Homo sapiens: one gene and its partners. The protein of the gene in region 2 interacts with the protein of the main gene of each other region in a biochemical or structural test. Each region holds a gene or a part of one and is shown on either strand. Other genes may lie near its edges. The genes, in order: C1QL1, NOTCH3, SNX19 and PPIA.

Region 1 (7,854 bases), on a different chromosome or scaffold from region 2:
CAGGATGGTCTTGATCTCCTGACCTCATGATCCACTTGCCTCGGCCTCCCAAAGTGCTGGGATTACAGGCGTGAGCCACCGTGCCTGGCCTAATGTTTGTATTTTTAATAGAGATGGTGTTTCGCTGTGTTGGCCAGGATGATCTCAAACCCCTGACCTCAGTTGATCCATCTGCCTCAGCCTCCCAAAGTGCTGGGATTACAGACGTGAGCCACCAGGCCCAGCCTCTCCTGTTTTTCTTTTGAGGGGGCTGGTCTGAATAACTATTAAAGTGCTGGGCCTTTGAAACCCCTAGTTAAAGCCACCTCCTTTTTTCCTACTAGCCTGTGGTCCCATCTCCAGTGAGCACCCCTTCATCAGACTCTGTCAACACCCTGCCCCTGCTGGAGGGAAAAGGAGCTTTTGAGATGGTTTTACCTCCCAGTGACTGAAGCAAGTTCCCCATTCTAAGCACATAGCATCTCCGGGGCCTCTTGTTGCCTCATCTCTGGGGACCTGCTGGGACTTCCTGAGGTGGTGCAGGGTCTAGGGCCAACCTGTGGCCCAATGACTGCCTCCCTATCCAGGCAAGCTGCCAATCCCCTGAAACCTCAGCTCTGTGTCAGCCCAAACTTCTTTGGGAAAGGAAGACATTCCATTGATGAAGGTGACATTGCTGCATCCCTTATTGGTGATTAATAGGGGGAATCATGGGGCTGTCTGCAGAATGAGCCTTTGCTGGATACTGGGGCCTCCCATTTGGTCAGGAACCAAGGACAAAGAGGAGAGACACGGGGATGTCTGATAGACACACGTGGGAAAGAGAGACATACAAGGAATAGAGAAGAGTGGGGTTAGATCCGGGGAGGAGAGGCCAGAAACCCAGGGAGAGATGGAAAAGGCAGACACAGGAGAGAGATGGACAAGAAACAGCAAAATAGAAGAAAGAGGCAGGGGAGAGGCAGAAACCAGAGAAAAGGTGTTGGCGGGGCAGCAGCCAGGCAGAGGAAAGAGAAGAAGGGCTGACTTATAAGCACCTGGCAGGCTATCTGCTCACTTTCCCTGCCTGCCCCTGTCTCTGCCCCTAAGACTTGCAGACCCGCAGGCTGGCAGAGCCTCAGGGCAGTGCTGCTGTGGGAAGGGTTCCAACAAGGTCTTGTATCTTAATCGTGAGAGATTCCTTCTCAACTTCCACTAGCTCAGCTTTAGTTCTGACCAGTGGTCCCCTTCTTCGAAGAGAATGCTCAGCCTGACCACACCCCCAGGTCACAGGCCACCACGAGTGAGAGCACTGGGAAGGGAGGTGGTATCAAGAGAGCTGGCTAAAATTGTCACCCCAGGGCGGGGCTGGGTGGAGGCTGGTCCTGGGGTCGGCCATTCCAAGGAGAGCTACACGCACATGCGAGTCCCGGTACCAGAGTCCCCGACACACTCAGTGCTTTCCAGCTGCAGCGTCTGAGATGGGGACGGAGAATGGAGAGGACCCCACACACTCCAGAGTCAGGAGGGGCTGGAGCTGGGAGACCAAGAGGAGGGGGAGTTTCCATCTCTTCCACCACCCCCCACCCCCCACCCCCTCCCCGCCTCAGGAGGAAAAACTCCCCCGCCCCCCAGACTGCCTTCTTTTTGGGGAAGCTCTGCTACAGTGGGAAACAGCTCCCCAACTCCCGGATTTTGCAAAGGGTGTCAGATTCGCCCAATGGTCCCTTCTCCAGGGCAGGGGAGGCACTGCAGCCAGGGCTGTAAGCACCGGGCTCCCTTTGCCTTTGTGCCCCAAACATTTCCTGCAGCCAGCCTTCTCCGCTCGCGCCCATGGCCACGCGCCTAGGCGCCCGCGGGCGCGGATGCTGCTTCTCCCTGTTCCATACGCCAGAGCCCATCCTTGCCCTCCCCTTATCGCCCACTGCTGTCGGCCCGAATCCACTTCCCAAGGGGCAAGCCCCCAAGGGCAAGTCCGTGCACCTGGGAGCCCTGCGCTCTGACTAGTTGGGTTCATTTCCCGCATTTCCAGTAGCGTTCCAGACGGTGCCCAGCAGCGTCTGTCTTGGAGCGGGAACCCAGGAACTGAGGATCGGCGATGTCCGCTGGCTCCGACCATCCCCACACGTGATGACCAAGCGGGGCCGCTGTGGGGTGGGATCTCCACCTGCGTCCGCCTGGCGCCCCCGCCAACTCCGATCAGGTACCCATTTGCCCCGGGCTCCCTGGGTGCCCTGGGCCCAGCCCAGCCCCATGCCCCCGCCTGGCCCACCTGGCCATTCTTGCAGAGGTCTGCCCACATACTGGTGCCGTCGCCGCCGCGCATGAGGACATGGTAGGTGAAAAAGTAGGTGCCGGGAATGTTGCACGTAAACTTGCCGCTGGCCGCGTCGTAGTTGTTGCCTAGGTTGGTGACCACGTCGTCAAACTTGAGTACCTCGTAACCCTCGTGGGGGTTCTTGAGGCCGGCGTAGAAGGCCACGCGCGGCACCGTGGTGTAGGTGGCAGTGCTGATGGCGCCGCTGCCCCCCGCGCCCGGCAGCCCCGGAGGGCCCGGCTTGCCTGGCTCACCCTTCTCCCCCGGCGGCCCCACAGGGCCGGGAGGACCTGGGTCCCCGGGAGGCCCCGGAGGGCCGGGCTTGCCGGTGCGGCCCGGCTTCCCCTGGGGGCCCTGCACCAGCGTGGAAGGCGGGGGCGCGCCGCTCTGCTCGCTCAGGGCGTCGCCGCCGTCGGTCCGCGCGCCGGCGCCGGGGCCCCGCGCGGGGTAGGGGTCGCACACCATGCGGCAGGTGCCCAGCATCTCATAGTGGCCTTCCGGGCCGCCCGAGCTCACCAGCACGGGGATGAGCACCACCAGCACCAGCAGCATCACCACACCCGCGGCGGCCGCTAGCAGCGTCTTTCGGCCCGCGCGGAGCCTGGGGAGCGCCGGGCCGCCCGGCCGCGCCGTCGGGGCAATGGTGCCGGCGGGCAGGGGGCGCGGGCTAGGCGCCCGCGCTCAAGGACGGTCCGGCGGGGCTGCGGGCATGGGGCCGGGCCCGGGGCGCCGCGCTGCGCTGGCTGCGCTGCGGAGCCCAGCCGCCGGCTCCTGCCTCGCGCCTCCCTCCTGCTGCGCTGCCGGACTGAGCGCCGCGGCCGCCGCCTCCCGCCTCCCGCCTCCCGCCTGCAGCCTCCCGCCTGACTCCTCCCGCCTCCTTGAGCCGGGCCACCGCCCCCTCGGCCGGGCCCCGCCCCGCCAGCTCCGCGCGGCTCTGGGCTCTCTAGGGGTGGGGCTGCGGGCGGGGCCGGCGCCTAATTGGGCCGCGGGCGCCTCGAGGTGGGCGGGGCATAAGGGGGCGGGGCCGCGGAGACCCCGGGCGGGAGCAGGGAGAGGAAAGAAGAGACTGAGTACGCGGAGACCGAGATTCGGAAATGGGGTGGGGGCCGGGGTCCGAGAGACCCGAGAGGCGCTCCAAGGGAAGGGGAGAGTAGGGACCAAAATGCGAAAGGGAGAGAGGGCCACAGGGAGAGCTAGAGAGCTCCGAGGGGATCGGGAGAGGAGAGGCTTCGAGGGTCGGTCACCAGGAAAACAGAGGGACTGGGGTCGCGACGGGCCAAGACCCGCAGGGGGCGGAAGCGAGGGGATAGCGCCCAGGTCTGCAGGGGACAAAGAGCGATTGAGGGGAGGACGGAGCGGGGAGCTGGAAGGTAGGATGAGAAAGGGGGTTATGAAGCGAAGAAGAGGATACGGAGGGGACCATTTGGCACTCAGGCCTCGCAGACCACCCGTCTGGGAGATCCAGATATCGGATGAATGCCTGTCCGGGGGCCCAGCGGAGCCAGACGGCAGCCGCCTCCTCCTTTCTGGATCTGACTGTTCCGGGACCCGTCTCCCCCGAGGTGGGGCAGGAGCTTCCAACCCCTCCTCGCCTCTGCCCCTTCCTCACCGAACTGTGGCCAGGCTGCTTTTTCCTGGGCCCTTTTCTTCCATCTCCCTCTGCTCAATCCCTTTACTTCTGCCTCTAGACCAGGGAGAAAAGGGGATCCTAAAAAGGTGGGCACCCCCACGTTATTTCTCCATGCTGACAGATGCAAATACGTCCCTGAGGGGTAACCCCCTTTTCCAGCCTCCAGGATGAGGGGTGGATCTCATCCAGCCCCTCAGCTCCTCCTCCCTCACTCCCCAGCCTCCTCCGCCGCCCCCTAACTCTTCTCCCCATCAGGCTGTGGGAGGCTCTCCTCTTCCTCAAGTGCAGCAAAGTGTTTAGGTTGCATAAACCGAAACGTGTCTGCTTCCATCAAAATATTTGTCACATTATCTGAGGCCCAGGTCGGGCTGCTCCACCGCTCCTCCTTCGCCCTCCTTTATCCGGCCCACCGGGGAGGATTCAGCCATTCGGAGGCGACTGGCCGGCTGCTAAAGAATGACATCCCAGCCTCTCCTCTCCCGAGAGCTACCCCCCGCCGGCTCACACTCTCCCTGTTGACCCTTCACCATGGGCAAAATGATTCCCTGGCCTTCCCTACCCAAGGTTGAGGTCGCTCACCTCATCCAGGGCTGGGAGTAGAAGGACACAGGGACATCCAACGAGGGGGCTGTGAAAGAGGACCCTCCAAGCACTAATGGCTGAGGCCAGGTTGGAGTGACCCCACCACCACCAAGGAGGGAGCTAAAAAATTTTCAATAAGTAGCATTTATTCAGGGTTTACTCTGTGCTAGGCCCTGTGTTGAATGTTTTACATACATGATCACCCTTGATCTTCACATCAGTCCAAAGAAGTAAAATCCAAGATTATTTTAATTTTACAGATGGAGAACTGAGGCTCTGGGAAGTTAAGAGATTTGCTTAAAGTCACACAACTAATAAGTGGGAGAGCCGGGACTCAAACTCGTAGCCTGGCTCCAGGCTCTTCCAACCTCAGCGCGATAGAGTCTCTAGGTACCGTTTACTGCCCAAAGCCCAGGGGTAGGGGGCTCAGGGCAGCCAGACCTCCCTAGGCTCAGGAAGAGTAGTCTTCAGCGCTCGGCTGTCAGGCAATCCGGTCCCCGGTTCCCCACGGCGGTCTCCTCGGTGTGCCCCACCAAGAGCGACAGGGCTGGTGACCCGAGGGGCGCGTGCGCGGTCGTCAGCCTGGGATTTGCACGGACCCCCTTCTCCCTAGTACGCTCGCTCGGGGGCCCCTCCTCTGCTACGCCGCTGGGGCTCGCCCGCCACCCACAGCCCTCGCAGAGCCCTCCGGGCACACCGCGGCTGGCCGCCCGGGGCCAAGGATGGGGCGGGAGCGCCCACCCACCCCCGCGCCGGCCGGGGCATCCAAGAGGCGCGCTCGCAGCCACACGGCGCCCCGCCTCCCGCTCCGAAAAAGCTCCTGCTCCCCTGGCGCGGTGTGGCGTCTCCGTCAGCCCAGCCGGATTCTCCCCGCTTCGCTGGAGTGGAAAATAACGGCTTCAAACTTTGCAGAGAGGAGCTGGTGCCAGCACTTTAATTAACAGCCATCTTGGCCTGTGAGCTGGGGCCACCGGCTTGGCGCCTCCCCTGGGCTCGCCAAGCCCCGCCCTGGCTCCGCCCAGGCCCCCAAAGAAGCACCCCTTAACCACCTACCCGACCCTCCACCCCCATCCCCTGCTCTCAGCGCCCCTCTTTCCGGGAGATGAGGGCTTGGCTGATTGGGGAGAGAGTGCTGCCTTGAGGGGCATCTCCCAGCTTAACACCTGAAGACAGTCACAACCCCCCCATCCGCCATACTGCCCCCCAACATTGTTTAAAGCTGGACTGTTGAAGATTCTGAAATTAAAGACCTGAGTGCCAGCCGGGCGCGGTGGCTCACGTCTGTAATCCCAGCACTCTGGGAGGTTGAGGCCCGAGGATCGCTTGAGCTCAGGAGTTCCGAACAAGCCTGGGCAGCATAGGGAGATCCTGGCGTTGTGGCTTTTACCTGTAGTCCCAGCTACTCAGGAGGCTGAGGCGGGAGGATCGCTTGAGCCTGGGAGGTCGAGGCTGCAATAAGCTGAGATTGCGCCACTGCACTCCAGCCTGGGCGACAGAGCAAGACCCTGTCTCATTAAGAACAAAAACTAAAACGGCTTGCGTGCCAATCCTACCCGGTGATTTTAGGTAAATAGCCTACCCAGCAGCCCCTGGCATCCTTTGGTAAAAGGGTGGTTGTGAGGATTAAATGATGTATTACGTATGTAAAGTCCTGGGCTCAGTATCTGACCCTTATTATACACCTCGTAAATGGTAGCTAATATAACTATTTCACCTCAAGGCCAAGAAAGCCCTCTCAGGAGACCCCCGGGCCTTGGGTCTACTTGGTCCTGCCAGCTTCCTACCCATTGCTGTCCTTGACACTAGGAGAGGGGGACAATGGACCTAGGCTCCCAGGTTCAGAGATGGAACTGGATGAGTGAGGGAAGAACCCTGAAGTTCCGGCTTCCAGGCCTCTTCTTCAACCACCTGCTAAGAACAAGGACTCAGGTTTTCTTTTTTTTCTTTCTTTCTTTTTTTTTTTTTTGAGACTGAGTTTCGCCCTTGTTGCCCAGGCTGGAGTGCAACCGTGCGATCTCGGCTCACCCCAACTCCGCCTCCCAGGTTCCAGCCATTCTTCTGCCTCAGCCTCCCGAAGAGCTGAGATTACAGGCACGTGCCACCATGCCCAGCTAATTTTTGTATTTTTAGTACAGACATGGTTTCACCATGTTGGCCAGGCTGGTCTCAAACTCCTGAGCTCAGGTGATCTGCCTGCCTGGGCTTCCTGCTGGGATTACAGGCTTGAGCCAGCTTGCCCAGCCGGGGCCAGGACTCAGGTTTTCAGAAGCGAAAAGGGAGGGAGGGTTTCAAGGTAAGGAGGGCGGCTGCACTCTCTGTAGCTGGGATGCTGTCAGTGGGGGGCTGAAGGTCTAACTTTGCTTCCCGAACTTCTATGAGTGTGAGGGGTCACTCCCACAGCCCCCATCTGGAATGACCCTACCATAGGAACTCCTACAGTGAGGGGGTGGTGCCGACAGCCCCAGTCATTCCAGGCATTGAGGTAGATTGTGGAAGGTACAGGGAAGAGCGTAGGTAAGGCTTTTTACCCAGGCATGACTGGCACTGACTTTAGGAACTGAGTGACTGTTCTGTGGTATTTTGGGGTTCTTTGAATGAATGTGAGTGGGTGTGAATGTGTAAGAGGCTGTTGATGTTGCTGTGTGTCTGGGTTTGGGAGTGAGGAAGGGGGGTGCTGTGCCCTGACTCATCAGCTGCTGGATCTGCATTGAGTTGTTTTTACATTTACTGAAAACAGCTAGCTAGGTCCTGCCTGGGTGAAAACACCTAGCTAGGTGGTGATGGTGTGTCCCAAGATGAGTAGGACCGGAAGGCTGAGCGGTGCCCCTGAGGAGTTCACTGTTTGGTGGGGGACACGTGCAGAAAGATAGGATACTTTGCCACAATAATTACCATAGCTAACAGTTTTTGAGCACTTACAAAGTGCAAGATCCTGTTCTTTTTTTTTTTCTTAGATGGATTCTCTCTCTGTCGCCCAGGCTGGAGTGCCGTGGTGCGATCTCGGCTGACCGCAAGCTCTGCCTCCTGGGTTCACGCCATTCTCCTGCCTCGGCCTCCGGAGTAGCTGGGACTACAGGTGCCTGCCACTATGCCTGGCTAAGTTTTTTGTATTTTTAGTGGAAACAGGGTTTCACTATGTTAGCCAGGATGGTCTCGATCTCCTGACCTTGTGATCCACCCCCAATAGGCCTCCCAAAGTGCTAGGATTACAGGCATGAGCCACCGCGCCTGGCCAAGATCCTGTTCTTAAGCACTTTTATGGATTATCTCATTTACACTTAACCTATTATCATGGATTTAAAACTATTACATGGCTTATGTCACGTACTAGTATTAACCTCATGAGGTAGGTACTATCATTTTCCCC
Region 2 (7,289 bases):
CTTGAACTGTGTGCCTGGCACTGTGCTGTCATTTCATCTTCACAGTTATCTTACTTTTCCCGTTTTATTTATATGGAAACTGAGGCCCGAGGAGGTTGAGTGACTTCTTGTGCAAGCCCATGGAACGAGTTAGGGAATGAGCTGGGCTTAGAACCTTGGAGTCTGTGTGCTGCCTCTTTTTTTTTTTTTTTTTTTTTTTTTTTTGAGACAGAGTCTTAGCTCTGTCGCTGGAGTGCAGTGTTGCAATCATCGCTCACTGCAACCTCTGCCTTCTGGGCTCAAGCACCTCAGCCTCCCCAGTGGCTGCGACTATAGGCGCACACCACAGCGCCCAGCTAATATTTTGTGTTTTTTGTAGAGACGGAGTTTCGCCATGTTGCCCACGGTGGTCTCCAATTCCTGGGCTCAAGCAATCTACCTGTCTCCACCTCCCAAAGTGCTGGGATTACAGGCGTGAGCAACCACACCCGACCTAAGTGCACTGTCTTTGAGAGCAATCGAGTTAATATCATGTGCAAAGTATGAGATAAAAGGCCCCCCAGAGGCCGGGCGAGGTGGCTCACACCTGTAATCTCAGCACTTTGGGAGGCCAAGGTGGGCGGATCACCTGAGGTCAGGAGTTTGAGACCAGCCTGGCCAACATGGAGAAACCCCATCTCTACTAAAAATACAAAATTAGCAGGGCATGGTGGCGCATGCCTGTAATCCCAGCTACTTGGGAGGCTGAGGCAGGAGAATCACTTGAACCTTGGAGGTGGAGATTACGGTGAGCTGAGATTGTGTCATTGTACTGCAGCCTGGGCAACAAGGCATAACTCCGTCTCAAAAACGAACAAACAAACAAACAAACAAACAAAAAGGGGTGCTGCCAAACAGATAAATAACACAAGCCACATATGCAATTTTAAATTTTCTAGTAGCCACATTAAAAAATAAACAGAAATGGGAGATATTAAATTTAATATTTTATATTTATTTATTTATTATGTATTCAGAGTGAGGCTCTGTCGCCCAGGCTGGAGTGCAGTGGTGCGATCTTGGCTCAGTGCAGTCTCGAACTCCTGGGCTGAGGCATTCCTCCTGTCTTAACCTCCTGAGTAGCTAGGATTACAGGCACTCACTACATGCCTAGCTAATATTTTTATTTTAATTCTGTAGAGATGGGGTCTCACTGCGTTGTCTAGGCTGGTCTCAAACTCCTGGCCTCAAGCCATCCTCCTGCCTTGGACTCTCAGACTGCTGCCACTGTGCCTGACCAAATTTAATATATTTAAATTTAATTTATTGAATGTATATAATCGGCTGGGCGCAGTGGCTCACACCGGTAATCCCAGCACTTTGGGAGGCTGAGGCAGGTGGATCACCTGAGGTCAGAAGTTTGAGACCAGCCTGACCAACATGGAGAAGCCCCGTCTCTACTAAAAACACAAAATTAGCTGGGCGTGGTGGCACATGCCTGTAATCTCAGCTACTCAGGAGGCTGAGGTAGGAGAATCACTTGAACCCGGGAGGCGGAGGTTGTGGTGAGCTGAGATCGTGCCATTGCACTCCAGCCTGGGCAACAAGAGCGAAACCCCATCTCAAAAAAAATAAAAATAAAAATAAAAGTAAATAAATAAATAAATAAATAAATGTATATAATCTATTTAACCCAATATATTAACATATCATTTCAACATGTAACCAGTATAAAATTGTTAATGAGATATTTTACATTGTTTCCTTTTTTTTTTTTGAGACAAGTTCTCACTCTGTCGCCCAGACTGGAGTGCAGTGGTGCGATCATGACTCACTGCAGCCTTGACCTCCCAGGCTCAAGTGATCCTCCCGTCTCAGCCTCCCCACTAGCTGGGACTACAGGTGTGCACCATCATGCCCAGCTAATTTTTGTATTTTTTATAGAAATGGGGTCTTGCCATGTTGCCCAGGTTGGTCTCGAACTCCTGAGCTCAAGTGATCTGCCCACCTCGGCCTCCCAAAGTGCTGGGATTACAAGTGTGTGCCACCACGCCCAGCCTATTTTTTTTTTCATACCAAGTCTTCAAAATCTGAAACCCAGTATGTATTTTACATTTATAGCACATCTCCATTTAGTCACAATTTCAAGGACTCAGTAGCCACATGTGGCTAATGGCCACTGTCCTTGTCCTGTTCCAAGCACAGGAATTAGATCAGGCACAATTAGCAGCGTTTGCTTGGCAGCTTAAAGGGACCTTTTGGTTTTCCCAACATCCTGCCCTTGCCACATAGGTGAGGTTTCCAGATAAAGGAGGGGACGAGGCCACAGAAGGGGATGGATTTAGATTCCTCTGACCAAATGCACCCCATCCCAGTTGAACCTGGTTTCCTCCTGAATTCTTCTCAATCCAAGGCATATCCCAGTCAGACTGGGCTAATGGGGGCAAGGTAGGTGACCAGACCGCCTTCCTCCTGTCCGCAGACCCATGCCTGAACGGTGGCTCGTGCCAAGACGGCGTGGGCTCCTTTTCCTGCTCCTGCCTCCCTGGTTTCGCCGGCCCACGATGCGCCCGCGATGTGGATGAGTGCCTGAGCAACCCCTGCGGCCCGGGCACCTGTACCGACCACGTGGCCTCCTTCACCTGCACCTGCCCGCCAGGCTACGGAGGCTTCCACTGCGAACAGGACCTGCCCGACTGCAGCCCCAGGTGGGCGGGGCCTCTGCTTGGAGAGCAGGGACTCTGGCTTGGGATGGGGCCTGGGACCTGGGACGAAGTGGGGACAGCAACGACTTGGGGGAGTCCTCAGCTTGGTACCCACTGCGGACTCTGATGACTGATGGGGCAGGGCCAGGGAAGGAGCAGGGCGTCTGTTTGGAGCTCACCTTGGAGTCTCTGGTGCCTGAGAGGGCATGGCTTCCAGGTGGCTCTCACCTTAGGGCTGAAGTCCCTGGTGAATTGGAGCTAAGGGACCTGATTGGCTTCTGCTGGGGCTGCAGCTTCTTGCCGAGATAAGGGTCAGGGAGTGGGACGTCCCCAGCGCTAACAGCGGGACTCAGGAAGGAGGGCAGGGCCTGTGAGGGGGCGGAGCCTGATCCTCCCTCCCACTCCTTCCGCTCCAGCTCCTGCTTCAATGGCGGGACCTGTGTGGACGGCGTGAACTCGTTCAGCTGCCTGTGCCGTCCCGGCTACACAGGAGCCCACTGCCAACATGAGGCAGACCCCTGCCTCTCGCGGCCCTGCCTACACGGGGGCGTCTGCAGCGCCGCCCACCCTGGCTTCCGCTGCACCTGCCTCGAGAGCTTCACGGGCCCGCAGTGCCAGGTGGGTGGAGTTACTGGGGACCTGGGGGAGGAGCCTGCCTGGGATCCTAGGAGGGAGAAGCCAAGTCGGGGCACAGTTTCTCCCAGACTACCCCCCACCCCACAGTACTGACTCTGAGTGCTTCCCCTCCAGACGCTGGTGGATTGGTGCAGCCGCCAGCCTTGTCAAAACGGGGGTCGCTGCGTCCAGACTGGGGCCTATTGCCTTTGTCCCCCTGGATGGAGCGGACGCCTCTGTGACATCCGAAGCTTGCCCTGCAGGGAGGCCGCAGCCCAGATCGGTGAGTGGGAGCATGTGGGCGGGCGTGTGGGGCCTTGGGAAGGGGCTCATGCACGTACCTCCTGCTAGTGTGAGCCGAATGGGGGTGCCACAGAGCCTATGGGGCATGATGGGGTGTGTGGCTGAGTGGTGTGGGTGTGTGAGCATGTGACAACTGGCCGGGATGGTGTGTGTCTGTCACTGTGAGACAGCAGGGATGGTGTGTGTGCTACAGGGTGTGACCGAGCTGCTGTGAGCGTTGAAGGCATGTGTGTGTATGTCAGTGATGAGACCTTGCCTGCTGGGGGGATGTGTGACAACCTGATGGAGTGTGGGTGCGATCCTGGGGACTCATTCCACCAAGGATGTTGAATGATCTGTGTGATGGAGGCAGAAGGGGGATGTATGGGGTTACCTCTGTTCCTGTGCCACTCTCCTCTTTGCAGGGGTGCGGCTGGAGCAGCTGTGTCAGGCGGGTGGGCAGTGTGTGGATGAAGACAGCTCCCACTACTGCGTGTGCCCAGAGGGCCGTACTGGTAGCCACTGTGAGCAGGAGGTGGACCCCTGCTTGGCCCAGCCCTGCCAGCATGGGGGGACCTGCCGTGGCTATATGGGGGGCTACATGTGTGAGGTAAGGGGGCGCTCCCCAGGAGAGGGAAGAGGAGGTGGGCATGCTTGGGTGCGTCTGGGCACACATTTCTGTGTGGCTTGGTATGGGTATGTCTCTAGATATGTCTGAGTTTTTGCTTTTGTGACTCTTGGTGTATCTGTGGGTGTCACTCTGGGTAGATCTGGGGTGTTTTTTTATTTGTTTGTTTTTTTGAGACAGGTTCTCACTCTGTCACCCAGACGAGTGCAGTGGCGCGATCTCAGCTCACTGCAACCTTTGCCTCCTGGGTTCAGGTGATTCTTCTGCTTCAGCCTCTCATTATAGCTGGGAGTACAGGCACCCACCACCACGCCCAGCTAATTTTTGTATTTTTCATAGTGACAGGGTTTCACCATGTTGGCCAGGCTGGTCTCGAACTCCTGATCTCAGGTGATCTGCCCACCTCGGCCTCCCAAAGTGCTGGGATTACCTACTGGTAGTGCGCTGAACATCTGTGTGTGTCCTTTTGTGCTGGGGTTCTTTGCGTCTTCATGGGTATGTCCAGGTGGGTCTGTGTCCCACTAAGCTGAGTGGGTCCCTCTCTTACCCCACTGAAGTGTCTTCCTGGCTACAATGGTGATAACTGTGAGGACGACGTGGACGAGTGTGCCTCCCAGCCCTGCCAGCACGGGGGTTCATGCATTGACCTCGTGGCCCGCTATCTCTGCTCCTGTCCCCCAGGAACGCTGGGTATGCCAGGGCCAGGGTTGGGGGGACAGGATGAGAGGCTGTCTTCATTCCCTCTTGACCACCCCTCGTTTCTTCCCCCAGGGGTGCTCTGCGAGATTAATGAGGATGACTGCGGCCCAGGCCCACCGCTGGACTCAGGGCCCCGGTGCCTACACAATGGCACCTGCGTGGACCTGGTGGGTGGTTTCCGCTGCACCTGTCCCCCAGGATACACTGGTTTGCGCTGCGAGGCAGACATCAATGAGTGTCGCTCAGGTGCCTGCCACGCGGCACACACCCGGGACTGCCTGCAGGACCCAGGCGGAGGTTTCCGTTGCCTTTGTCATGCTGGCTTCTCAGGTAAGCGTTGGCGAAGGGGCTGGCCTGGGACCCCGCCTGTCATTCCCCCATTGTGGCTGATCTACATGCTCCCGCTCGCTCAGGTCCTCGCTGTCAGACTGTCCTGTCTCCCTGCGAGTCCCAGCCATGCCAGCATGGAGGCCAGTGCCGTCCTAGCCCGGGTCCTGGGGGTGGGCTGACCTTCACCTGTCACTGTGCCCAGGTAGGTGTGGGTGGCGGCCTTTGGAGGAGGAGTAGGGGCGTGGCCTCTGGAGTAGTAGGGGCGTGGCGTCTAGGAGGAGGATGTGGCTTTAGGGGAGACATCGAAGGGAAGGGAGTTTCTGGAAAATGCTGACATTTCCGCCGGGTGTGGTAGCTCACACCTGTAATCCCAGCACATTGGGAGGCCGAGGCGGGAGGATCACTTGAGGCCAGGAGTTAGAGACCAGCCTGGGCAACATGGTGAAACCCCGTCTCTACTAAAAATATAAAAATTAGCCGGGCGTAGTGGCAGCTGCCTGTAATCCCAGCTACTCGGGAGGCTGAGGCAGGAGAATCACTTGAACCCGGGAGGCGGAGGTTGCAGTGAGCCATCACGCCATTGCACTCCAGCCTGGCGACTGAGTGACACTCCGTCTCAAAAAACAAAGAAACAACCCCCTGCCCCGACATTTCCTGGAGGTTTGAAGGGAAAAGGGTGAGGATGGTGATTGGGGGGCGTGGCCTCCTGGGATGGCAGGGCTTATCTGCCAGGTGGGGTCTCCAGTGTGGAAAGGGGAGCGGTTGGGTGGGACATGGGGAGGTTGAGGGGGTCTCAACCTTCCTTAGTCTTGACCTCTTCTCTTCCCCCTCTCTCCCCTTGACTCTTCTTTTCCCCACTCCTCCATTTCTTCTCCTCCTTCCCTCCACTCCCCACCCTCATTTTTATCCCTCCCTCCCCAAACCCGACCCCCAGCCGTTCTGGGGTCCGCGTTGCGAGCGGGTGGCGCGCTCCTGCCGGGAGCTGCAGTGCCCGGTGGGCGTCCCATGCCAGCAGACGCCCCGCGGGCCGCGCTGCGCCTGCCCCCCAGGGTTGTCGGGACCCTCCTGCCGCAGCTTCCCGGGGTCGCCGCCGGGGGCCAGCAACGCCAGCTGCGCGGCCGCCCCCTGTCTCCACGGGGGCTCCTGCCGCCCCGCGCCGCTCGCGCCCTTCTTCCGCTGCGCTTGCGCGCAGGGCTGGACCGGGCCGCGCTGCGAGGCGCCCGCCGCGGCACCCGAGGTCTCGGAGGAGCCGCGGTGCCCGCGCGCCGCCTGCCAGGCCAAGCGCGGGGACCAGCGCTGCGACCGCGAGTGCAACAGCCCAGGCTGCGGCTGGGACGGCGGCGACTGCTCGCTGAGCGTGGGCGACCCCTGGCGGCAATGCGAGGCGCTGCAGTGCTGGCGCCTCTTCAACAACAGCCGCTGCGACCCCGCCTGCAGCTCGCCCGCCTGCCTCTACGACAACTTCGACTGCCACGCCGGTGGCCGCGAGCGCACTTGCAAGTGAGCCCATCCACCCGATCGATCCGTCTGTCTATGCATCCATCCCAGTCTGTTTGTCCGTGGGCCCTGCCTCTCTTTCCACCTGCCCATCCACTTGCCCCGTCTGTTTCTCTGTGCACTCTATCTGCCCATCGGTGTGTCCCACGTGTCTGTCCGTGTGTCTGTTCATCCATGTGCTCTGTCTATCTTGTTCTTGTTTCTATCTGCCTATGCACTTCTCTGCCCCGTTTGTCTGCCCTTTTCTCCATCCAATAATTACTTTTTTTTTTTTTTCCCGAGATGGAGTCTTGCTCTGTGGCCCAGGCTAGAGTGCAGTGGCGCGATCTCGGCTCACTGCAACCTCTGCCTCCCGGGTTTAAGCAGTACTCCTGCCTCAGCCTCTGGAGTAGCTGGGATTACAGGTGTGAGCCACCGTGCCCAGCCGAATTCCTTTTTTTTTTTTTTTTTTTTTTTAAGACGGAGTCTCGCTCTCTTGCCCAGACTGGAGTGCAATGGCTCCATCTTGGCTCACTGCAACCTCCGCCTCCCGGGTTCAAGCGATTCTCCTGCCTCAGCCTTCCGAGTAGCTGGGA
Region 3 (6,019 bases), on a different chromosome or scaffold from region 2:
TCCCTGATTGCAGACAAAAGGACTCAAATGTCGACAGAAGCAATGGCTTGTTTATACTGTGTTGAACTGGATTTGGTGACTTGTGAGCATAGGTAATCAGCCCTTTTGCCCGTGCCCCTGGGTGAAGAATCATCCTGCTCCTGTAACTATCAAAAAGATTAACCATGAACGTTGATATGAAATACTGCTTTTCATACCTTGACACCAAGAAGAATAGACCTTATTAAGGGAGGAAAAACACTTTTGGAGTTTACCTCCTTTACACATCCTGCTTGCATGGAATCCAAATTCAGTGAGCTGACGGCAGGCCAGTTCCTTGCCACTTTATGCAGTTGTGTTTAAAGTTTACCCTCTGTTATCTATAAATGCAAGTGGCTTTTTCAAGAATAGTGAGGGCAGCTTTCATTAAGGACTCATGCATCTCTAGGAGAATCACATGGGCTTAGTTGGCAGTAGAGCATTTTCTTGGGGACAGAATGTATTATAGATGGTTTAGGCAGGAGGTTAGACGAGAAACTTCCAAAAAAATCTAGGGATTTTTTATTCTGCCCAAACCAGCATGTTCCTTCCTGCTTTCATTTTTTTGTTCATGTCCTTCCTTCCACGTGGTAGATTACCTTCTCTTCTCCAGCTGGGCAAGTAGGCTACCTCTGCCCATAAGGACCAATTCAAGTTCCATTTTCAAGAAGCACTGTCTGATTGCACCAGCCAAAACTCTTCCCACTTTCTTTTCAGTTATTTACACTGCCTCTCTAGTCAATGTGCATGTATATGAAGTCCTCAGTAAGAGACTATAATTCTTCAAGGGCAACGAACATATCTTTTATCTTTTTTAGTCCTATTATGTCCTTATGCCCCCCCCCCAACTATATGTATATACCTAGTGCATGATAGGTACAAAATAAATATTAAAGTTTACTTAATTAAAGATTATGTTTATTTAAGAGGCAAAATTTGTGAATAAGTCTGGATCTTGATACTGTTACTTTCATTTTGTTGATTCCTTTCTCCCAACCTTCCACATCCCAGAGACAGGGTGCTGGTGACTTTTATGGAAAGGCTTGAAGGGTGAAGATATGTGGAGAAACCACCGTAAACCTCTTTGAGATTAACCACTTATTCCAGTGGAGGGCACTGGCTAGTCTGTACCAGACCTGCCCCAGACAGCTTTGTACATCTTGCGTGTGGGTGGGAACCCAAAAAGTTTCCTTTTCAGTGGATCTGTTTAGGTGAGGTAAAGAAATCCATTACTCAAATGTTTCATCAGAGGCTACCCCCTGTTCAGGTGTGCACCCTGCACCCATGTGGGTTTGCGGATGGCATATAACACTTGCAGCAGCAGAGCTCGTTGCCACACATCCAAGGGAAGTAAGTGTGCATATGTGGATGCGGCGGGAATACCTGCGGTCTTTCTGCTGAAGAGCAGGGTTATACACCTCCTTTTAGCAATCTGGAGAGGACTGAGGCAAGAGCTTGTATTGAAACACAAGCAAGCTCCACGTATGGTTTTGGACATGGAAGAAAGAGTACTGTTGGGGTGGAATGACCTAAGTTTTTAATAGGATTAGGATTTCTGTGGATTTTTCCCAAGTGATAGAAGTTTTCTTCATCTAGCAGGGAGCCTCACCCAATTGCTTCTCTATGTTCATTTCTGAAACTCCTTTGTTAAAACTAAATAGCAACAGAGAAGAAACTTTCTTCAAAAAACTCTTCATATCTGTCATTTCTCCTATTCTTATGGAACTTCACAATTGCTTTTTCTTTATTCCTTTTTTTTTTTCTATATCAGCTCATCAGTCTTTGTGGGTGACTTGGCTACCCCACTAATCTAATTGCCTTTTTGATAGTTAAATCAATATGGACATCAACTTAAGGCTATATGTGAACCTTAAATGCATGATATTCCCTATACTTGATTCCACAATTGATATTCTGTGAGGAAAGTTGGCCAGATATTCCCTTCTGTGAAGTCAGAATAACTACCGACCCTAAGAATAAACATTTTGACCAATTCTTTATATGTTGCAAACTATTCACACAACTAGAAAGTTTAGCCATTCACATCTCTTCCCCTGATTTTAAGTCCCAGATTCTGAGACTCAGAAAGTTTAGTGACTTGTTGAGCTTTCTGTGGAAAATCTGTTGTAAAAACAGTTCAGACATTGGAAAATATAAAATAGCCCCTAGAGATCCCAATAAAGCTTCCTCTCCCCAAATCCCTCTACAAGTTTATCCTCGAAAAACTTTCTGAAAACTGATGAGAAAATACTGAGTAATTAATGCTCAAATGGGAAAGATGACATGTAAAAGCAAAAACCTGTTAATGGCATCTGTTCATATAGTTCCATGTGCCTTTTTACTTAACTGCACTGATAGGCAATGTAATGAAGAAGTTTCCTTTTAAAACGTAAAATGTAATTAAACAGAGTTTATCTTAAATTGGCTGGACCCGCACAGCTTGACTGAGACATACACAGCTGTCTTCATTTTGAAGCACCTACACTAGTCAAGCTTCTTTCTAACCCGCCCTTAGGGTTTGCCTGTTGGTCTGTCTTCCCTACTGGGCTGTTAATCCCTTGGAGGCAGATTGTCTTGTTTCCCAGAGTTTTTCCAGCATATACCATGGCAGACAATTTTCACCTTATCTATTCTAACTCGTAAGCCTCAGCTAGTGCCTCCATCCTCGGGTGCATAGCCCAGTGACAGGCATGTAACAGACTTTGCCTACAAGCAGTTGCTGATCCATAAATGACGTTGGCAACCTTCTTGTGGCAGTGAGTAACATATTTCTTTCCTCCTGATAGGCTTGGAATCCTCATCCCCATCTGGCAATTTTCTTTCCATCTTTCCTACACTCACAATGGAGCCCACACGCCTCACAACCCCCTTGACTAAACCAGATGACAGCAAGAATGCCTAGTTCCAAGTGAGCAAGGGTGAAGCCTTAGGCCCTTGTCTCCTCCAGACCTCCTCTCTGCTCTAAGAGTATACTGGGCATGGGGTGTGGTCGGGGGGTTGGGGGCGGAGGAGTACTTAACCTCAAACTGAGAAAAAGGGTGTCCTGAGCAAGTTTCATAGCGTAGCAGCTTCCATTTGAAATGTGAAGCTTTGAAGGCCTGTTGCTACAGTAACCAGCTAGCTCCTGACTCCAATGCCTGTCTAATCTAAGGTGGAAATGTCCCAGAAACAGACCCCAGGCTGGCAGCTCTTAACTATGACCCATCTCATAAGCACATATCCAGCTGTAGCCTCTTGGTTGCTGGGGTGAAGGGGCCTCTGTATCGCCACAGGAAAAAAAATCTGATAAATTACGGGCTCAAGAAGGGTGTTGCTTTTTTTTCCACTAACAGACTTTGCAACCCAGTTCCTGGTGAAAGGGCTCCGCACCCACCCGTTTTGTGTGTATAATGCTGAGCTAAAGTGGGAAGGAGCAGTAACACCAAAGGAGGCTAATTCTCTTCCTGTCAGTAGGAGAGAGTGTCTGCCCCCAGTGTGTGAAAAGGGAAGGCATGAGAAGTGAAAAATCAGCCTTCTGGAAGCACCTTCTTACCACGAGAAAACAGGTGATTCTTACTATCTTTGAGACTCATCCAGATTGTGTCTGTTTAACTCTTCAGGCAATATGAAGGCAGAGAAGCCATTTCAGAGAAGAGATTTTTTAAAAAATCATTTCGTTCTTTGGCATTGTCACAGGATTATGATGTGGGTTCTCATAAAAATTTCACTCCCCCCAAAGCCACCCAAAGGAAAGGCAGTGAAATGGGGAGGAACACACATTTGCCTGGCATCGCAAGAGCTGCCTTGTAGTCATGGGTTCCAGTGATCTTGGACCGATCTCTTCACTTCCCTGGACCTCAGTTTCTTCCATACAAAGAAGTTGAACTGGATCATAGAAAAGATGCTGTCCAGCTTGGTAATATCAGATAGGGAGCAGAAGCTGTCTCTTAGCACATGGCCAGATTCCGGAACAACGATGATGGTCTCCATGTTTGTCCTAAAAATGCATCTCATCTCAGTAGAGATTTTCTTCCACCTCATTTGGGTCTCAATTTAAGGAAGGAAGAAAGGAAAGAAACCCGGGGATTCTCTTCTTGAAAGGAATATACTTCACTTTCTCTAGGCTTCTAGGATAAAAACTTCCTATCCTTCATTTTTCCTCTTTAAACCTGCCAAAATCAAGTTGAGTAAAGATACCATACAGATATGAAAAAGAAGCCACATCCTTAAATTTTCATGGAGTCCAAGAGCCTGCTCACCGCCAGTTAGCTTTTCCCAGGATGGTGGTGGCACTGATCATCTAGGTTGCACTTTTATGTTCATGTCCCAGAGCGTTTCCCATCAGCCATCTCATTTCATCTTTTCATCATTCCTCTGAGGAAAAGACTTCACACATGTATAGGACTTTCTATATCACAAAGTATTTCATATCCAATGTCTTATTTAGATCTTGACAATCACTGTTTAAGGTAATTTGGCAAGTTATTAATACTCATGTCCTCATTTTACTGAAGAGGAAACTGAAATGCAGAGAGCTTGTCTTTTGCCCAGGATCACTCACCCAGTTTATTGGGAGGCAGCAGCACGGGGATTAAGAACATGGGTTATGCCGACAACCAACCAGGCAGAATTCCAGCTCTGTCAGTAGTTAGCTGTCTGGCCTTAGGAAAGGGATTTCACACCTCTGTGGCTTAGTTTCCTTGTCCATTAAATGCTCATAAGAATAGAGCTTTCCTCACAGAGATTGGGTGGGCACGGGAGCTAAATGAGCTCATACGTTTAAGAACAACCTCTAGCACACAGTGCATAATAAATGTCATTATTATTAGCAAAGCCAGGACCTGGGTCTTCCAGCTTCTAGCTCAGTGGCATTTCTGCTGCCCCACACCAGGACTATCCTTCGTATACAGGTATGAACCTAAAGCCTTCAGTGTTTCAATGAAAAGTTCACCCAAGGTCTTTCTGTTCAGTAAGTCTAGAGCTAAGGGCTCCTGGCACTCTGTTCAGTCCTTTCGCTGGTAAACCACGCTGCCCTCCGTTGCTCTGGGCAGAATGTCAAACCTTCTTATGTTTTTAAAATTTATAAATCAAGCACTCTTATTTAATATTACTGACAGCCCGAAGGCAGACGCTCCCACTCTCCTGGGGAAGAGGGTCTTCTAATCTGCCATCTTAAGGAGGTAAAAGGGCTTGATTGGGTAACTCATTGCAATGGGCACGTATTTATTACTGTCTCCCGGCCTTTTCTCATGCTGTTTGTCTGCTGGAATTACCACTAGTGCCAGGCCATTTGAATATTTGACCATTTGTCTTAGAATTCTCTGAATACAAATGTTTTTCATACCTTTACTATGTACTTTTTAAGAATGAAGACTATGTTGCATGTTGGTTTGTACTCTCTCCTGCACATAAAAAATGCTTAGTAAATAGATACACAAATGTTTCTTGATTCCTAAATTGATTGACTGTTCGGGGAACTAATGGTCACTTCTAAGTGGTTGACAGTTGTCTCTTCCCACCTCTTAGTCGCAAGTTTCAGATGATCAAAGAATGCCTAGGTGGCATTCAACAGTATATGCCTCCGTAAAGGTAGAAGGTTTAGGAGTCGTATGTGCAAGAGTGGAAGAAGTTCTCCCTGCACACACAGGAGGCCATCTGCTACAAAGCCTCAGAACCTGGCCTCTGCCCTGTCAGCCTGCATGCTGCGTGCATGGAAAAACAGGCCTGAGCCAGGGCTTACCCTGTCACCCAAAGTCCACTCCATGTAGTATGCCCGAAGCAAACATGACCTTGTTCTACAGTTAAAAACAAATGAAAGTCATCTGCCGGGGTCACTTGGTAATAAAGTCCTGCGACAGAAGGGGCTCTGCTTAAAGGGCAGCTCAGATCCAGGCATTAAAATAACCTAAATGGTGTCGTTTTCTGATCAAATTCCTTTCCCTGTCGGGTTTGTGATTTTTGAGCCTGAGAATGTCCCTCGCGGCTCAGGTTTCTCTGCTGTCACACTGATCTCAGGCCTGGA
Region 4 (7,719 bases), on a different chromosome or scaffold from region 2:
AGTTCTCATCTTCAAATTTCTCCCCATAGATGGACTTGCCACCAGTGCCATTATGGCGTGTGAAGTCACCACCCTGTCAACATATAGGAAAAATGTCACTTCTGACAACATAACCATGAAGTGTGCCAAATCTGCAAGGTTCAAACTTTAAACCCAAGTTCAAACTGAATAGAAGGGTTAAATAGAACCGAAATGGTAGAGTAACAGTTCAGATATGTGTATCCTGAAATATTCTGGCTCAATCCCAAATGAAGGGAGCAACCCAAATAAAATAAAATTCAGTAAATTTCGTACCTGACACATAAACCCTGGAATAATTCTGTGAAAGCAGGAACCCTTATAACCAAATCCTTTCTCTCCAGTGCTCAGAGCACGAAAATTTTCTGTTTAAAAAAAAATTAAACACATATATACATACATAAAAATATATATATACACACACACACACAAACTGTCACAATTGGAACATCTTTGTTAAACTTAGAAAATGGACCAACCTGCTGTCTTTGGGACCTTGTCTGCAAACAGCTGTAAGAGAAAATTACAGTTAATTAACATCTGCTTATTTTGTTGCTTAGTACCCATGTCTTTAGGGGCTTCTGAGTCATAAATTCATTTTCTCACTAGAATACTTCTTCAGTAATTACTTTAATTCCCAAGAACTGCTCCTGACAGCCATAAGGCCCTGCAGGCAGTTGGGTTAAGAAACATGAAACCCAAAGACATGCCAAAAATCCAATACTAGTCATAACTTAAATAGTGAGACTTCTAGAAAGTGTCTCAAACTTTTAGTACATCACACCTACTTCTGAAAAGATATATGGCTTCTTAAATGTCTATCACCACCCCCCAACTTGAGCTAGAACTTACAAGGCAAAATTCTAAGGAACAGCAAGCACTGCTGCACGATCAGGGGTAAACAGCTGTTCTTTTAGTCACTTGTAATGAAAATGCTACTACCTCCAATCTGTTAACATAGCTTTATGGATTAGATGAGCAGTCACTTCTTGGTATCCAGGCCCCTTACCTAGTAGTGGGGTAAAAAATAAAGATTGGTTTCTAGTATATCTGGTTTTGAACCTTTCTTGAATGTATAATACGTTATGGCTAGAGAGGTAGCTTAAATACCATAAACATTTACAAGCCCTTTCATAAAAACAGCTTGTTTAAAAGTAGCATTTTATAAGCTATTTCACAGATGTGACTGAATTAACTACTAGTATCCGTGTGCACTTCTCTTATAGCAATGTACTTTTTTTTTTTTGAGACAAGAGTCTCACTGTCACCAGGCTGGAGTGCAGTGGCACGATCTCGGCTCACTGCAGCCTCCGCCTCCGGGGTTCAAGCGATTCTCCTGCCTCAGCCTCTAGAGTAGCTGAGATTACAGGCAAGCGCCACCACGCCCAGCTAATTTTTGTATTTTTAATAGAGGTGGGGTTTCACCATGTTGGCCAGGACGGTCTCAATCTCCTGACTTCGTGATCCGCCCGCCTGGCCAACGTACTTATTTTTTAGTTTTTAGGTATTTGTACCTAGAATGTATGGTCTTTCTAAAACATCAGCTTTTCTCAGAGCTTTATAGTCGGTACGTTTAAGTTCCTATGGCTTCCCTTTCAGACTTTCGCTAAAGCCAAAGCCCTCATTGGCAGTTACCCCTCCATTCTCATCAAGACCTGCAAGTCCTTTCTCATTTCCCTGAAGCTCTTTGGGTAACCTGATGCCCAACATTAGGTCAGGCCAAGTTTCCACGAAAGCCCTTGTCACTTACCAGCTTTGACTACACTCATAGGTGGGGTGGGGTGTGGATTAACATGCAGTGTTTCAGTGCCTATGTGCCAGGCACTATGGACAGGGTAGGCAACAAGGAAATCGCTCTGTCCTCACGAAGACTGCATGAGGATCAATCTATTTTCGGAATAAGATCCCAAACTAGCCATTGGTGGCCTTTTGAGATGTGATTTAAAGGAATAAAACCACTAACATCCTATTTCGCTACTCCCTAAGGTCTATCCATGTTAACTGGAACGGAATCGTACTCAATATTTAACTTTGAAGACACGCGCCAAGTTTAGATACTATGCTATAATTACAACTGATCTTTAAGAACTCATTTAACGCTCTCAAAACTAATTAGGTAATCACTGGTAATCCACCTTGGTCGGAAGAGGCCTGCCTTGTGGCCAGTCGCAACTTGCTTGCTAGGCAGAGGGACAATCGGGAGGGGCTCAAGAGCGCCTCCCCCGCCAGCGCCGTCACTGCAGTGGAAGGCGGTCCTTGGGCACCAGCAAAGGCAAGGCCCATTTTCACATTTCCGCTTGGGGGTGGGGGACACGGAGGGACGTTTGGGGCACATGTATAAATATTCCTACTTTATCCAAATGGAAGATATTTCAAGTGGCAACCCGTCACATCCCAGCAAGTCTCCTTTTATAACATGGCCTCCCGGGATCTACAGGACCGAGCATGGACGGGCTCACACCGCGCCTCGATCCTTGAGAAAAACCCTCAAGCAAACAGCTTCCCAGCTCAGGATGTAAAGCACCCATGCCTGCCAGGGGACAGCTTCCCAGGAAGGCGGTCGCAAGCCCCCGCGAGCGTGCTTCTGGCTCCGGTCTGCGGCGCCCAGGCCAAGCTAGGGCGGAGCCCAACGACTCTCAAGGCGCGGACCTGAGCGCGGCCGCCGAGCACGTGCGTCGGACAGGACAGGGCGCGGCCACATGAGGCGGGCGGGCGGACGCGGGCCCCCTCCCCCAACGGCCTCGCAGCCGCCCCGCCTGCCTTTGTCCGCCGCCGTCCCGGCCTCCTCCCCGCGACTCGCGGACCTCCCAAAATGGCCCCTCGTCAGGAAATGGCGCCGCAGCCCGCCCGCGCTCGCCCCTCAAGCAGGGTCGCCCCGCGCCCGGGCCTTTGGGGCGCTACCACCCACCCCGACCCCGGCCCACTTTCTGGGCCCCATTCCCGCACGCCGCCGCCCGCCCGACCTCAAAGGAGACGCGGCCCAAGGGCTCGCCGTCGACGGCAATGTCGAAGAACACGGTGGGGTTGACCATGGCTAATAGTACACGGTTTTCCTCGGCGGTGGCGTCTGCAAAACGGCACGAGCCTGGCCTCCCGCCCCTTTTATACCACGTTCGGCCCCGCCCGCAACCCGGTCTCGCGCCTCCGTCCCGGCCAATCGGGTCTGCGACTTCGCCAGAGTGACAGTGCATCTGGCCTATAGACGGAAGCCGGCGCTGATGGGGACGACACATGAGGCGCGCGTGCGCGCTAACGCGCGGAGGCAGGTTCCCGCCTGCGGGCTCCGTCGCGGTGGCTGCGGCATGGGACTCGGGGCGGGGCGGCAGTACGGGACGCGGGGCACGGGGGAGGGTCAGTGCGGAACGGGGGTGGGCAGCATGGCGCGCGCACGCGGGAGACGGAAGCGCGGCGGCTCTTCGGCCGTTGTCAAGCGATGAGGCGCGTCTCCCCATTGCACAGAGGGGGCAACTGAGGCGAACGCAGGCCTCAAGGTCGCGCCGCCAGTCAAGGTCGACTGGGGTCCCGCGCCCGGACCCTACGCCTCCGCGAGCGGAAATGGGGATGGCGCGTCCCCGAGACCTAGGAGCAGCCTTGCGTCCGCATTCCGCGCGGGCAAACACCACGTCGCGTCCTACCAGGCAATGTCAGGAAGGAGGTTGCCTTTGAGCATCGCTGTTTTCTCTAACGAGGTGGGACAGGAGCAGTCTCCGGTTTTGAGAGATTATGAAATGCTTTCAAAATGCTCTACTTTCCGAAAATATCTTACACTCTGCTTGAATCTTCTTCAGGAGGAAGCCATTAAAACAGGAGCCTGGCCAGGCTCTTACCTGTGAAGATGCATTATGCACATTTTGCCCTCTTACTCTTTTTGAATCTCTGCTCCTGGTCTTTCCCTGCCCCCGCCCCGCCCAGCTCCTACCGCCCCCGCCTCGGGGCTGAATTGTGCTTTGATTTTTGGGTGAAAGATAAGTCACAATTTAAAAGCGAATTTCTTCAGGCAAAGACATTAATAATACTTTAATTAAAATGCACTTGTAGGCCAGGCGCGGTGGCTCATACCTGGCGCTTTAGGAGGCGCGGAGGCCAAGGCCGGGGAGGATCGCTTCATCTTAGGAGTTCGACACCGGCCACCAGCCTGGGCATCTTAGAGAGACGCCGTCTCTACAAAAAAATAAATAAAAATAAAAATTAGCTGGGCGTCGAGGCGCTCGCTACTCAGGAGGCTGGGCGGGGAGGATTGCTTGAGCCCGGAGGTCGAGGCTGTAGTGGGCGGTGATCGCATCACTGCATTCCAGCCGGGACGACAGAGTGTGACCCTCTCTCAAAAAATAGGCCGGGTGCGGTGGATCACGCCTGTAATTCCAGCACTTTGGGAGGCCGAGGCGGGAGGATCACCTGAGGTCAGGAGTTCAAGACCAGCCTGGACAACATGGTGAAACCCCATCTCTACGAAAAATACAAAATTAGCTGGGCATGGTGGTGCGCACCTGTAGTCCCAGCTACCCCCTCGGGAGGCTGAGGCAGGAGAATCGCTGGAACCCAGGAGGTGGAGGTTGCAGCGAGCAGAGATGGCGCCACTGCACTCCAGCCTGAGAGACAGAGACTCCGTCTCAAATAAATAAACAAAAATATAAAATAAAATGCACTTATGTGACTGGTGTTTTGTTAAGAAAACCTTACAAGGGAATTCATATATCCTGGGCTGTCACTTAAGTTGCAATATTAAGGATATTATTTAATGTTTCTTTTTGTTTTTTTGAGACAAGGTCTCACTCTCACCTAGGCTGGAAGTGCAGTGGTGTGTTATCGGCTCACTGCAACCTCCCCTTCCCGTGCTCGAGCAAGCGTCCCACCTTAGCCTCCCAAGTAGCTGGGACTACAGGCATGCACCCACACCCAGCTCATTTTGTGTGTGTGTGTTTTGTAAAGATGGGGTTTCGCCACATCGCCCAGGCTGGTCTCAAACTCCTGGACTCAAGCGATCCACCCGCCTCAGCCTCCCAAAAGTGCTGGGATTATAGGCGTGAGCTGCTGCACCTGGACGTTGTTTAATGTTTCTAAAACTCAGTTTCTTCATCTGCACAACCAGGATAGGGTTGTGGTGAGACAAAAATGATAATTCATCTGATAGATGAAGTACAGTTTCTGGCCTCTTGCCATTGTTAATAACCATGAGCCAACGTGTTAGGAATTTATTTATTTGAGATAGGGTCTCACTCTGTTGGTTAGTCTGGAGTGCAGTGGTGCAATCCTAGCTCACTGTAACCTCGAACTCTTGGACTGAAGCATTCCTCCCTCCTCAACCTCCCAAATGTCTGGGACTAAAGGCACAAGCCACTGTGCCAGCTAATTTAAATTTTTTTAACAGAAACTGGTTCTGGCTGTGTTATCAGGGCTGGTCTCAAACTCCAGGGCTTAAAGGATTCTCCCACCTTGGCCTCCCAAAGTTCTAGCATTACAGGTGAACCGCCATGCTCAGCCTGTGTTGGAAATTTAGACTATGTTGTTTTGTTCTCATCACCATCCCATTATCCCCATTTTACAGATGCGTAAAGTAAAGCTCTGGCTTCTTGTTCAGAGTAATCGCTTATGAGTGTTAGCAAAGCCAAACTGGAAACTGCTTTTTTCCCCCCCACTCCACATCACTTCTTGCTTTGTGATCTTAAGAAAGCCACTTGTCCTCATCTGACACTGAAAAAAAATGCCCAAGGCCTTCAGGCATAAATTCTTACCATTTCTCTCTCCATCCTAAAACGTAGAGCAGTTAGGAACTCCTCCAAAGAAGTAAATGAATGAGGCCGGGTGAGGTGGCTCATGCCTGTAATCCTAGCACTTTGGGAGGCAGAGGCGGGTGGATAATTTGAGGTCAGGAGTTCAAGACCAGCTTGGACAACATAGTGAAACCCTATCTCTACTAAAAATACAAAAATTAACTGGGCAGGGCTGGGCATGGTGGCTCACACTGTAATTGCAGCACTTCGGGAGGCCGAGGTAAGTGGGTCACTTGAGGCCAGGAGTTCAAGACTAGCCTGGCCAACACAGGGAAAACCCATCTCTACTAAAAAGTACAAAAATTAGGGCTGGGCACAGTGGCTCACGCCTGTAATCCCAGCACTTTGGGAGACTGAGGTGAGTGGATCATGAGGTCAGGAGTTCAAGACCAGCCTGACAAATATGGTGAAACCCCGTCTCTACTAAAAATACAAAAGTTAGCCGGGCATGGTGGTGCGCATCTGTAATCCCAGCTACTCAGGAAGCTGAGGCAGGAGAATCACTTAAGCTTGGGAGACGGAGGTTGCAGTGAGCTGAGATCACACCACTGCACTCCAGTCTGGGGGATGGGGTGAGATTCCATCTCAAAAAAAAAAAAGTAAATGAATGCATGAATGAATAATAAATAGGCTGGGCGTGGTGGCTCACGCCTGTAATGCCAGTGCTTTGGGAGGCCAAGGCAGGAGGATCGGTTGAGCCCAGGAGTTCAACACCAGCCTGGGCAACAGAGGGAAACCCTGCTTCTACAAAAAAATATGTATTTTCTTTTATTTTTTATTTTTATTTGTTTGAGACAGAGTTTCGCTCTTGACGGAGTGCAATGGCTTGATCTCGGCTCACTGCAACCTCCGCCTCCTGGGTTCAAGCAATTCTCCTGCCTCAGCCTTACAAGTAGCTGGGATTACAGGCATGCGCCATCACTCCCGGCTAATTTTGTATTTTTAGTAGAGATGGGGTTTCTCGTGTTGGTCAGGCTGGTCTTAAGCTCCCAACCTCAGGTGATCCACCCACTTCGGCCTCCCAAAGTGCTGGGATTACAGGTGTGAGCCACCATGCCCGGCCTATTTTATTTTTATTTATTTATTTATTTATTTATTTATTTATTTTTTGAGACAGAGTGAGTTTTACTCTTGAAGCCCAGGCTGGAGGTCAATGAATGGCGTGATCTTGGCTCACTGCAACCTCCACGTCCTGGCTTCAAGCAATTCTCCTGCCTCAGCCTCCCAAGTAGCTGGGATTACAGGCATGCACCACCATGCCCAGCTAATTTTATATTTTTAGTAGAGATGGGATTCATCATGTTGGTCAGGCTGGTCTCGAACTCCTGACCTCAGGTGATCCGCCTGCCTCAGCCTCCCAAAGTGCTGGGATTACAGGCATGAACCACTGTGCCCGGTCAAAACATTTTTAAAAATAAAAATTAGCCAAGCACGGTGGTGCATACCTATAGTCCCAGCTACTCGGGAGGCTGAGATGGGAGGATCACTTGAGCCCAGGAGGTTGAGGCTGCAGTGAGCCATGATGGTGCCACTACACTCCAGCCTGGGTAACAGAGCAAGACCCTGTCTCAAAAATAAAAATAAAAATAAAAATAAATACATCCGGCTGGGTACAGTGGCTCATACCTGTAATCCCAGAACTTTGGGAGGCCGAGGCAGGTGGATCACTTGAGGTCAGGAGTTCAAGACCAGCCTGGCCAACATGGCGAAACCCCGTCTCTACTAAAAATACAAATATTAGCCTGGTATGGTGGTGGGCTCCTGTAGTCCCAGCTGCTCAGGAGGCTAAGGCAGGGGAATCGCTTGAACCTGGGAGGTGGAGGTTGTAGTGAGCCAAGATCGAGCCACTGCACTCCAGCGTGGGTGACAGACTGAGACTTCGTCTCAAAACAAATAAATGAATACATCCTTGTGACTTGTCCTCCCTCTC

Evidence for each region.
Region 1: the proteins of NOTCH3 (region 2) and C1QL1 form a complex in vitro, tested with the Homo sapiens proteins (one study listed by BioGRID).
Region 3: the proteins of NOTCH3 (region 2) and SNX19 form a complex in vitro, tested with the Homo sapiens proteins (one study listed by BioGRID).
Region 4: the proteins of NOTCH3 (region 2) and PPIA form a complex in vitro, tested with the Homo sapiens proteins (one study listed by BioGRID).

What each region holds. Positions count from the first base shown.
Region 1 is NC_000017.11:44,965,222-44,973,075, forward strand, and holds the start of C1QL1 (C1q-related factor precursor), read right to left. Parts: upstream 3,083-7,854; 5' UTR 2,828-3,082; coding exon 2,231-2,827; intron 1-2,230. UniProt on the Homo sapiens protein: May regulate the number of excitatory synapses that are formed on hippocampus neurons. Has no effect on inhibitory synapses.
Region 2 is NC_000019.10:15,176,953-15,184,241, reverse strand, and holds part of NOTCH3 (neurogenic locus notch homolog protein 3 precursor), read left to right. Parts: intron 1-2,440; coding exon 2,441-2,666; intron 2,667-3,079; coding exon 3,080-3,281; intron 3,282-3,413; coding exon 3,414-3,561; intron 3,562-3,985; coding exon 3,986-4,170; intron 4,171-4,745; coding exon 4,746-4,878; intron 4,879-4,891; exon of another isoform or gene 4,892-4,959; coding exon 4,960-5,217; intron 5,218-5,300; coding exon 5,301-5,419; intron 5,420-6,151; coding exon 6,152-6,717; intron 6,718-7,289. UniProt on the Homo sapiens protein: Functions as a receptor for membrane-bound ligands Jagged1, Jagged2 and Delta1 to regulate cell-fate determination.
Region 3 is NC_000011.10:130,865,671-130,871,689, reverse strand, and holds the end of SNX19 (sorting nexin-19), read left to right. Parts: 3' UTR 1-5,440; downstream 5,441-6,019. UniProt on the Homo sapiens protein: Plays a role in intracellular vesicle trafficking and exocytosis. May play a role in maintaining insulin-containing dense core vesicles in pancreatic beta-cells and in preventing their degradation. May play a role in insulin secretion.
Region 4 is NC_000007.14:44,792,056-44,799,774, reverse strand, and holds the start of PPIA (peptidyl-prolyl cis-trans isomerase A), read right to left. Parts: upstream 3,095-7,719; 5' UTR 3,051-3,094; coding exon 2,982-3,050; intron 2,657-2,981; exon of another isoform or gene 2,154-2,656; intron 1,028-2,153; exon of another isoform or gene 871-1,027; intron 529-870; coding exon 498-528; intron 384-497; coding exon 295-383; intron 74-294; coding exon 1-73. UniProt on the Homo sapiens protein: Catalyzes the cis-trans isomerization of proline imidic peptide bonds in oligopeptides.